Regions from separate parts of the Homo sapiens genome. Here region 1 is linked to region 2. Evidence: fine-mapped expression QTL. A gene starts in region 2. The other region holds a variant in brackets. All regions are shown on one strand. Distances are from middle to middle.

The links.
Region 1: its variant is fine-mapped to the expression of SNHG6 in whole blood (TOPMed, PIP above 0.99).

The regions. Positions count from the first base shown.
Region 1 is chr8:66,803,946-66,809,473 of GRCh38, reverse strand. It overlaps C8orf44-SGK3 (C8orf44-SGK3 readthrough), which reads right to left. Exons shown (of 19, transcript NM_001204173.2): 6 at 5,027-5,099. It overlaps SGK3 (serum/glucocorticoid regulated kinase family member 3), which reads right to left. Exons shown (of 17, transcript NM_001033578.3): 4 at 5,027-5,099. Among named protein-coding and RNA genes, the nearest start is that of MCMDC2, 64 kb to the left of the region's middle. The variant T/G (reference allele first, on the strand shown) is at 2,170.
Region 2 is chr8:66,922,590-66,927,589 of GRCh38, reverse strand. SNHG6 (small nucleolar RNA host gene 6) reads left to right here and starts at 2,049. Exons shown (of 4, transcript NR_152600.1): 1 at 2,049-2,153; 2 at 4,865-4,976. It also overlaps a transcript of MCMDC2 not described here. RefSeq lists a silencer at 1,878-2,077 and an enhancer at 1,070-2,269.

The sequences.
Region 1 (5,528 bases), 120 kb after region 2:
CATTCTGTCTAATCTTTGCTCAGTGAAAGCCCCGACAACTGGGCTCCTGTGTTCTTTTGATCAAACTTCAGTCATCCTAAATAGCTTCCCTGCTTTCAGGCAAGCTGCCCTGAGATCATCTTGTACATTTCCTGCCCCAGATCTGGGATCACCATTTCTTCAGCAAACTCTGGTTCCTTTGAGAGGGAAATGGTATTTAGAGATCACAATCTGAATGCTAGGGGTGTTGGTTACTACTTGTTATTGCTTTTAGGCATTTCCAGGAGAGAGTGCTAGAAAATATTTTTACTAAGGTAAAAAAATAAATTATGAGCCAGGAGTGGTGGTGGTGTAATCCCAGCACTTTGGGAGGCTGAGGCCAGTGGATCACCTGAGGTTGGAGTTCAAAACCAGCCTGACCAACATGGAGAAACCCTGTCTCTACTAAAAATACAAAATTAGCCGGGCATGGTGGCACACGCCTGTAATCCCAGCTACTCAGGAGGCTGAGACAGGAGAATCGCTTGAACTGGGGAGGTGGAGGTTGTGGTGGGCCGAGATCACGCCACTGCACTCCAGCCTGAGCAACAAGGGAGAGCCTCTGTCTCAAAAAATAAATAAATAAATAAATAAATAATTATTTCAAACTATATTTCCAAATTAAGTTACAAATTACAGGATTTTGCTGAGTGCAGTGGCTCACGCCTGTAATCACAGCACTTTGGGAGGCTAAGGTGGGTGGATCACCTGAGGTCAGGAGTTCGAGACCAGCCTGACCAACATGGAGAAACCTCATCTCTACTAAAAATACAAAATTAACCAGGTGTGGTGGCGCATCCTATAATCCCAGCTACTCATGAGGTTGAGGCAGGAGAATCGCCTGAACTCAGGAGGTGGAGGCTGTGGTGAGCCAAGATCATGCCACTGCACTCCAGCCTGGGCAATGAGAGCGAAACTCCATCTCAAAAAAAAAAAAAAAAATTACAGGATTTTTACTTAAAATCTTTGATTTTGTTTGTATCACTTTCCTCTTCTGCTTAAAATCTTGGTTCCCATGACAGTAACATTAATCACAGAATAACAACGCCATATAACACTAATGAATGCAGTGTAAAATTTGTCCATGGGTTTTTGTTTTTATCCTTAGCAATATATCCCATGAAGAATATACAGTCAAAATCCCATGTTTTAAAGTTACTTAAATTAAGTTAGGTTTTTTCCTTCAGTTTATTTTCAGTTGTTAGAGGCTGCTTTGTTATTGCATTTTTATTTTTGTTTTTAAATTGTTTAAAATAGTACATGGTTCCAAAGTCAAAGGTATGAACAAAATTCATTCAAGGGCATCTAACTTCCACCCCTTTTGCCTTTCCCAATCTCTCCCTCATCCTTAAAGTCACTAGTTTTATTAGTTTTTTATTTATTCTTCCATTATTTCCTTTTGAATCCCCATACCTTTTCCTACAGAAAAAATACACACCATACAAACTCATTTGCTGCACTGTGATTTTTTTTTCCATTTAATGGTATATTCTGGAGATCACACCATAGCAAAATACATAAAGAGCTTTTTTGTTCCTTTTTACAAGTATGTTATATCTAGCTCCACTGGAAAAATATTTTCATTGTTTCCAGTTTTTCTGTTAAAAATTGTGTCACAATACACAGTCTTGTGTGTACATTATATCATATGCAGCTTATTTTAGGGACAGATTCCTAGAAATGTGATTTCTTGGCCAAAGTGGAAAATGCATTCACAGTTTTTCTAAACACTACCAAACTCCCCTCAACATGGATTGTAACACTTTTTATTCCACCAGAAAAATATGGGAATGCCTGTATCCCCAAAGTATAACCAAATGAGCATCTTATCCATCTCTGTTTTTCTGAATTTGACTTAGATCTGATTTCCCCAATGCAGGACTTTCTAATATCTCTGTGACATATGATCCTTTTCACTGTTGCCAAGTCATATTAAATATACGCAGGATAGACAAACAGCTCTTCAAAAAAATCAGTTTTTAGTGTCAATTAATTCATCAAAACAAAGTACCAAAGAGCATTCAGCCTGGTATCTTGCCTTTAACAATGAAGCAGCAATGTTGCCAGTCTTTTACTTCTTTGCTTTCTTTCCTTGATGAAATGATTGTCTTAAGGATTCAGTTAAGGGCTCTACAGAACTCCAACCCAAGT[T/G]CAAGTCTCATATTATCACTAGTAGTTTGATTTCTTAATATTTTTCTGCCACTTCTAATTAGTTAATTGTCTCAGTCACCCAGGGCAGACCCTCCAATTATCTCTCCTCTTCTCTATATGTGTTACCTAAGCAATCATCAAGATGTATTCCAGATTTTTCATTAAAGGAGTTCTTGTACATTGCTCATTTTTAAACCCTATTTCTACCCTAGTCCCCATACTCATTATCTAATGCCAGGGCTATTGGACTATTCCCTTAACAAGTCTCCCAGTCTCTCCTCTGCTGTGCCCACCATAAATTACACACTGTCAGTTTCACATCTTGCTCAAATGCCACTAAGGCCCACACGCTACCCATGAAGATGCTTTTCAACCTGTGCTCCAAGGAGATACTTCACTGTTATACCAATAAAGCAGCTCCATTTAAATTTTTTTCACATATTACATTTCCATAAGATTTCTTTTGTGTTTTCTTTTTTTTTTTTTTTTTCGAGACAGAGTCTTGCTCTGTTGCCCAGGCTGGAGTGCAATGGTGCGATCTTGGCTCACCTGCAACCTCCGACTCCTGGATTCAAGTGATTCTCTTGCTCCAGCCTCCCGAGTAGCTGGGACTACAGGCATGCACCATTATGCCTGGCTAATTTTTCTATTTTTAGTAAAGACGGGGTTTCACCATTTTGGCCAGGCTGGTCTTGAACTCCTGGCCTCAAGTGATCCGCCCACCTCAGCCTCCCAAAGTGCTGGGATTACAGGCGTAGCTACCATATCTGCTCTCTGTAAGATTTCAATTGGGAAAAAAGTGTTCCGCTGCGAAAACAAAGCAGGAGTACAAAAGCCACAGGTCTACAGAATATAATCTGGCTTTGTTGTGCCAACTCAATTTTCTCTTGCTTCTCTTTATTAATGGGTTCATATATTTAGTAATACTTTAAAACCTAGTATTTGCCAGTTTTAAAGTAATAAAATAATACCTTAAAACCAGTATATTGCCACTGTTCGCCAATAAAAAAAGACATAAGTCTGCACCTTCAGAAAATCTACAGCCTACTGTAAGACAGATTAGCAATTACAATGAAATGTGCTATATACTCCCAAGGGGGGAAAAAAAAGAAAGAAAGAGAGAAAAAAAAAACTCTGTATGTAACCAGGGAAGTAAGAACATTCTCCAAACCAGAGGTTCATAAAGTGTAAAGAATAATAAGCCTCCAGTTGAGAGGGCTATAGGCAAAGCAGCCTCTGGGGAAAAAATGTTTTAATTAAAGGAAGAATGTAGAAGAAATATGAAAAAGGTGCAGGATAAAGAGCAGTCCGTTAATGGTGGGCAGAATTATATAGGACACAGTGATATGGTCTGGGAGGAAAACGAATGGTATAAAGTTAGGATGGAGAGAGAAAGCACACTCAATATAAGGGACCTTAGAGCTTTTATCTTGAGTAGTGACCAAGATCTCTCTCTTTCTTTTCTTACACAGACATGTGAGGTATTATCAGTTTAACCAGTTACAAGGTTACAAGCAAATTAGTTGGGGAAGGAGGGCAATCCATTCAGGATTCATCTGTGGCAGAGATAGATGACTTTTCTGATAGAATTTCTGGTGGATAAGAAGACTTTTGTTTCCCTGTAAGTAGCCATCTGTGACCTGGATTAATCTCTTGGGTTCTAGGGGAAAATTCCATGCCTGCAGCTTTAGTCATAGAGGTGCTAGATGCTGAGACCCTCTGTGTCCATGGGTTCCCCAAGGGTAAGCAATAGGATGTCCCTCTCTCTTTTTTTTTTTTTTTTTTGAGATGAAGTCTCGCTCTGTCGCCCAGGCTGGAGTGCAGTGCTGCTGATCTCAGCTCACTGCAACCTCTGCCTCCCGGGTTCAAGCAATTCTCCTGCCTCAGCCTCCCGAGTAGCTGGGACTACAGGCGCCCACCATCATGCCCGGCTAATTTTTTGTAGTTTTAGTAGAGACGGGGTTTCACCGTTTTAGCCAGGATGGTCTCGATCTCCTGACCTTGTGATCCACCTGCCTCAGCCTCCCAAAGTGCTAGGATTACAGGCGTGAGCCACCGTGCCCGGCTTAGGATATCTTTTTGGTATCCCATTCAGAGGCCTACAAGTTACTATGTACACAGTATATATTTAATGTTTCTGAATACAAAAGTGAATATTCTTCATGATACTGATTTAAAGTCTGTAAAGTTTCCCAAATTAACCTGAAGGATCAATTAAAAAATTTTTTAATAGGGTCTCGCTCTGTCACCCAGCCTGGAGTGCAATGGCATGATGACAGCTCACTGCAGCCTTGAACTACTGACCTCAAGCTATCCTCTCGCCTCAGCCTCCTGAGTAGCTGGGACTACAGGTGCACGCCACCATGCCCAGCTAATCTTTAAATTTTTGTAGAGATGAGGTTGCCCAGGCTGGTCTCAAAACTCCTGGCCTGAAGTGATCCTCCTGCCTTGGCCTCCCAAAGTGTTTCGATTACAGGTGTGAGCCACTGTGCCCAGCCCATTGACAGATAAATTTATATAGAAGTCAGACTGCTTGAATTTAACTTCCACATCTGCCCTTTACTATCTGTATGTGGTCCTGGGCAAATTAATGAACCTGTGTTTTATTTCCTTATCTATAAAAATAGTGATAACAACAATACCCACCTCACGAAGTTGTCAGGATCGAATGAATTAAAACACATGAAGTACTTAAAACAATGCCTAGTAGACAGTAAGCACCTTCCTGCGGCATTATTTTCACAGAGCATAAGATCTTTTAAAGTCCTGCACTGCTATACAGTGCAATGAATACATTAATTTACTTCTTCAAACTTCAACAATCACTTCATAGCTGGCCTATGAAGTTGTTTCTTACCTGGATCAAAATTATCACCAAATATTCTCTTGGCAGGAATCTTCAGGGCCATAGCAGGAAACTGTTTTTTTAACTAAAATTTTTAAAAATAACATTATATGAACTAATTTTATAAGTCTTCTAGTTATGCACACATCAAAGCCAAATACAATCTTATTTTAAAGAAAATCCATCATAAGACATACTTTTGAATTTATGATCATCCAAAGTATAACATAAATTATACCAATAAAATGTCACAAACTAATCGTCTTTTTTAGTCCCAATAAAATACCTAGTATCGTGTGACCTAGGATAAAATACTCAACATCTGCGTCTCATTTTCCTGCCTATAAAATGAGGATAATTTTAACAATGACCTTACAGATTTGCTGTGAGTTTTAAAGGAGATCATGTATGGCAAGTGCTAAGGCTAGAACGTGCTGTTACAGTTCCAAATACATATTACTCATTTATTATCTTAGGAGAAGATATGATCTTGGTGTTTTCTCTACATGAATAG
Region 2 (5,000 bases):
GAGGTCAATGAATGCCCTGTGAATGCCTGCAGGAGACAACACAAAGCTGTTAGCAACGCAGGAGCTATCCTCTCTGGAACCATGGCAGGGGAATTGTCCATGTTTGCCTCCAGTTATCATATGGCCCTGCACTCAGTGACACCAAGAACTTGCCTAAATTGTTGCCTTAGCATCTATGGATTTAATGTCCAAACTAACTCTCACTTATACCTTTTAGTAATGGTGGCTCCCACAGCTTCCCCTTCACACTGGAGGTGACAGCCCAGGTTGCAAAATTAGGTTGTGGAAGCAACATCCAGCCAGGAATCTTAGTCCAAGAAGCAGGTTGAGGTCCATGTCACTACTTAACAGGAGAAACGGCTTCCATTTGGAGGCCCAAGCAAAGATTTTTAAGCTCCTGTAAAATACTTTGCAATCCTTTGTTAAAGGAGGTACAATCACAATTTGTTTTGCTAGGCTTACTAGGCTTAGATATTCATACTCTATGTTACTTGAGACAAATTGAAATTTTGTACCGGATTTTGTATTCGTTTCTTAGATTTCCGGTGTCTAAAGGAGAGATTGGCCAGGCGCTGTGGCTCATGCCTGTAATCCCAGCACTTTGAGAAGCCAAGTCGAGAGGATAGCTTAAGGCCAGGAGTTGGAGGCCAGCCTGGCCAACATAGTGAGACCCCCGCATTTCTACGAAACGTTTTAAAAATTAGCAGGGCATGGTGGTGAGCATTTAGCTACTCAAGACTGAGGTGGGAGAATCTCTTGAGGATCCTAGAAGATGGAAGCTGCTATGAGCCATGACTGCACTACTGCACTCCAGGCTGAGCAACAGAGGGAGACCCTGTCTCTAAAAACAAAACCAACCAACCAAAACACAAAAACAAATTGGCCGGGCGCAGTGGCTCACACCTGTAATTCCAGCACTTTGGGAGGCCGAGGCAGGCAGATCACGAGGTAAGGAGATGGAGTCCATCCTGGCTAACACGGTGAAACCCCGGATCTACTGAAAATACAACAAAATTAGCTGGGCGTGGTGGCGGGCGTCTGTAGTCCCAGCTACTCGAGAGGCTGAGGCAGAAGAATGGCGTGAACCCGGGAGGCGGAGCTTGCAGTGAGCTGAAATCGAGCCACTGCACTCCAGCCTGGGCGACAGAGAGAGACTCCGCCTCAAAACAAAACAAAAGCCAAAAATATTAAGGAGAGATGACCTATCTTTAAGTGAGTAGATTGTTTAATCATATGCTTTCATGTGTATTCTTTCTGGCAACAAGATCATAAGCCTTTCTGCTCCAGCATCAAGCCCAGTGCTTTGCAGTCAGGATTCTATAATACAATGAGAAAAACAGAAGTAATAAGACGTGAAAATCAACAGCAAATTATAACATGTTCATAAACAAGGTAGGTAACTGCTTTATGAATGCTATATATATGTTTTTTGGTTTGTTTGTTTGTTTTGAGACGGAGCCTTACCCAGGCTAGAGTGCAGTGGCGCGATCTTGGCTCACTGCAACCTCCGCTGCCCGGGTTCAAGCGATTTCTCGTGCCTCAGCTTCCGGGTAGCTGGGACTACAGGCACGCGTCACCACAATCGGCCAATTTTTTTGTATTTTTAGTAGAGATGGGGGTTTCACCATGTTGGCCAGGCTGGTCTCGAACTCCTGACATCGGGTGATCCTCCCGCCTAGGCCTCCCAAAGGGCTGGGATTACAGGCTTGAGCCACCGCGCCCGGCCTTTTAGGGCATATTCTGCTCGTTTGCATCCACTGCAAACTGGTAAATTAAACATTGACTAGCTCTAGCAGAGTTACTCCTGAGCCTGAAAAGCCCCTGCGGGAAGTCACAAAGCCCCCACATAAACTTGCTGTGTGGCACACAGCGTCGCCGCACCGCGCAACCAGGGAAGAGGGCTAAGGTGCGGGTCTCATCTCCCCTCCGCCCCCTCCCCAGAGCCGGTGCACTCAGCCCCCCTTCGCACCCGCGGAGGGGCGGGGCCGCGTACCGGAAGAGGCGGGGCCACCGGAGTGCCTAAGAGCTGTCTTCCGATGTCGCTCTTCCTTTCCCGCGCGACCGGCGAGGGAGGAAGAAGCGCGAAGAGCCGTTAGTCATGCCGGTGTGGTGGCGGCGGCGGAGACTGCGGGCCCGTAGCTGGGCTCTGCGAGGTGAGAGTGATCGCGGTCTTAGGTCCAACTCCTCTACGTGCCGGGTTCCTCCGCCATATGGGTGCCCAGCGCGGCCCCTGTCCCTTCCCCGGGCGCAGCGGAGCGGGCGGCTGCTGCGTAGGCCAAAAGGCTACGCTCCCGGTGCCCCCAAGGCCCACGAGCTTTCCCCACAAGCCATTTGCGCAGTCGCGTTTTGTGAGTAACCACCTGGAAGGCTTAGCTGACCTTTCTCCGTCAACACCGGTTCGCTGTCCTCTGCTCAGAAACTGGGCAAGGGCCTTCTGACTTAAGGAGGTGCCTGCAAGGGACCGTCGGGAGGCTTCGTGCTCCACCCGGTCTTGGCCAGATCTCTCTTGTGTCCCCAGCAAAGTTGTGCGTGCGGCCTTGGCGGTTTCAGGCTCTTAGGCAGCTTGTTTTCCTTAAAAGGGAGCGTTTTATAAATAGGAAGGTGATTATCCCTTAGGTGTCAGGACGACCCTTAGTTAACCGTACTTTGTGAGTGGCTTTGAAACTGTAATGAGCGCAGTTTACTGAGTCATTACTAGTCTCGACCCATTCGTAGAGCTAGTCAGTATTTGTTCCTGGACCTTCCTTCGTAATACGCGCTAAAGTCAAGGCATGGAGGTTGGAGAACAACACGTGCAAGTATAGGAGGCCCTTAGGCTAAATGCCTGCTACACACGGAGATGCTTGTATTTACATAGAGATGTGTATTTCTGGACATAATACAGAAGAAACCGGTCAGCAACTGGGAGGCTGGGAAAACCTGTTAGCTATTCAGAAACTTTTTTTTTTTTTTTTTTGAGCCAGAGTCTGTTCTGTCGCCCAGGGTGGAGTGCAGTGACGCGATCTTGGCTCACTGAATCCTCCACCTCCCGGGGTTCAAGCAGTTCTCTGCCTCAGCCTCCCGAGTAGCTGGGATTACAGGCGCCTGCCACCACGCCCGGCTAATTTTTGTATTTCTAGTAGAGACGGGGTTTCACCATCTGGCCAGGCTGGTCTTGAACTCCTGACCAGCCTGACCACTCGTGATCCACCCGCCTAGGCCTCTCAAAGTGCTGGGATTATAGGCGTGAGTTACCGCGCCCGGCCATAGAAACAAATTTTAAAATTTCATCAGTGAGACTTCGTATAGGTTTTTTTTTTTCTTCAAATTTGAAATGCATTGCTTCGTCTGAAATAATCATTAACTGTCAAGAAGACGAATGTCATGGCTTATCCTTGAAATATTTTAGGTATTATTATTTTTGAGGCTTCAGTAGCTTGAATTCTGTTTTCACTGGTAAGTGCTGGGACTTCTAAAAATTTTCAAACTAAATAATTGATAAAATTGGTAGTGCAGGAAAGTTCTGAAGCATAATACAAAAGAATCCACCGATACATTTGAGAACTATAATATTACCAATACTAGGGTATCTATTGTTTACATTTCCCTGCTTCCTATTCATAGGTACCCACCATTTGGAATTTTGTGCCCATCAGTCTTTTGGGTTTTGTGGGGGAGGGGGGTGGTGTGGATAGCTTTGTGGGGTTTTTTGTTGCTTTTTTGAGATGGATTCTCATTCCTGTCGTGCAGGCTGGAGTGCAGTGGCGCGATGTCAGCACACTGCAACCTCCATCTCCCAGGTTCAAGCGATTCTCCTTCCTCAGCCTCCCGAGTAGCTAGGATTACAGGCACCCACCATCATGCCCAGTTAATTATTGTATTTTTAGTGGAGATGGGGTTTGGCCAGGCTGGTCTAGAACTCCTGACCTCAGGTGATCCACCCGCCCCGACCCCACAAAGTGCTAGGATTACAGGCGGGAGACACCGTGTCCGGCCCATTTTTTAAGCTTTGTAAAGACAGGATTATGCATGTAGTTGTCTGTAGTTCCTGTGAATCATAATATTAAACTGAAACTTTTTTTGTTTCAGTTAATTTTTTTTGAATTATTCAAAACCAGTAGTTTATATTCCTAATACTGATTGTGTGAAACATTTTCAGCATTTCAGCACATGAAAATGATTGTTTTTGCAAGCTCCAACCTTGTATGTCTTCATAAATCATTTCGTATTGCTGCCTGGCTCAATGATTTATTCTCCTGGGCTGCTGTATGACATGATTTTTTGCCCCAGTCCATGTTCTTTGCAGTTTTTAGTTAACTTGGGACTTAATTTTACAGGAATGTGTCCAGTAAAAATGCCAATATAGGTATCCCTGCTCTGAAACTGCTAGGTTTGCCGTTATAATGTTTTTAGGTGAAGGTCTTCACGTTAGTTTTTATACATCTAACCTGGCTCATAGCTCATCCTTGTCGAGCTGTGAGACAGAAAAGCAACGGCTGTGTACTCACTATGACCATTATGTCTTAAAATCAAAACTGCCACAGTGAAGGATATCATGAAATGTTTCCACCATTTTCCTGCCAGTGCTAATGGCTCCTGTTTCCAGTTTGGAATAAGCTCATTTGTGGAAATACTAGGTACTAATGAGACAAACATACTCAGTTACAGAGGTTTGGGTTTGTCAGTACTGACTATCAAAAAAGCAGAAACAGGTAATAGAATAATAGTACTTTTTTATTAAAAAGTGGTTTGGGAGTCTGAAAGGTAGGTTGCAAGTACAGTTCCTAAAGGAATGAGATTCTCTTCTTGGACCATTCCTACATATAAGATGCCCAACAAAATGCAAATAAAAATGGGAATTCGAAATGTAATATTTAATTTCCAGGTGCAAGAAAGCCTTTGAGGTGAAGGTGTATGAAAGTCATCATAACAGATGTTTTCCAAAAACTTGTAGAAGGTTGTGAAAAAACTACTAGGATCACGCGGCATGTATTGAGGTACCTAAATTTAATTAATGTTAG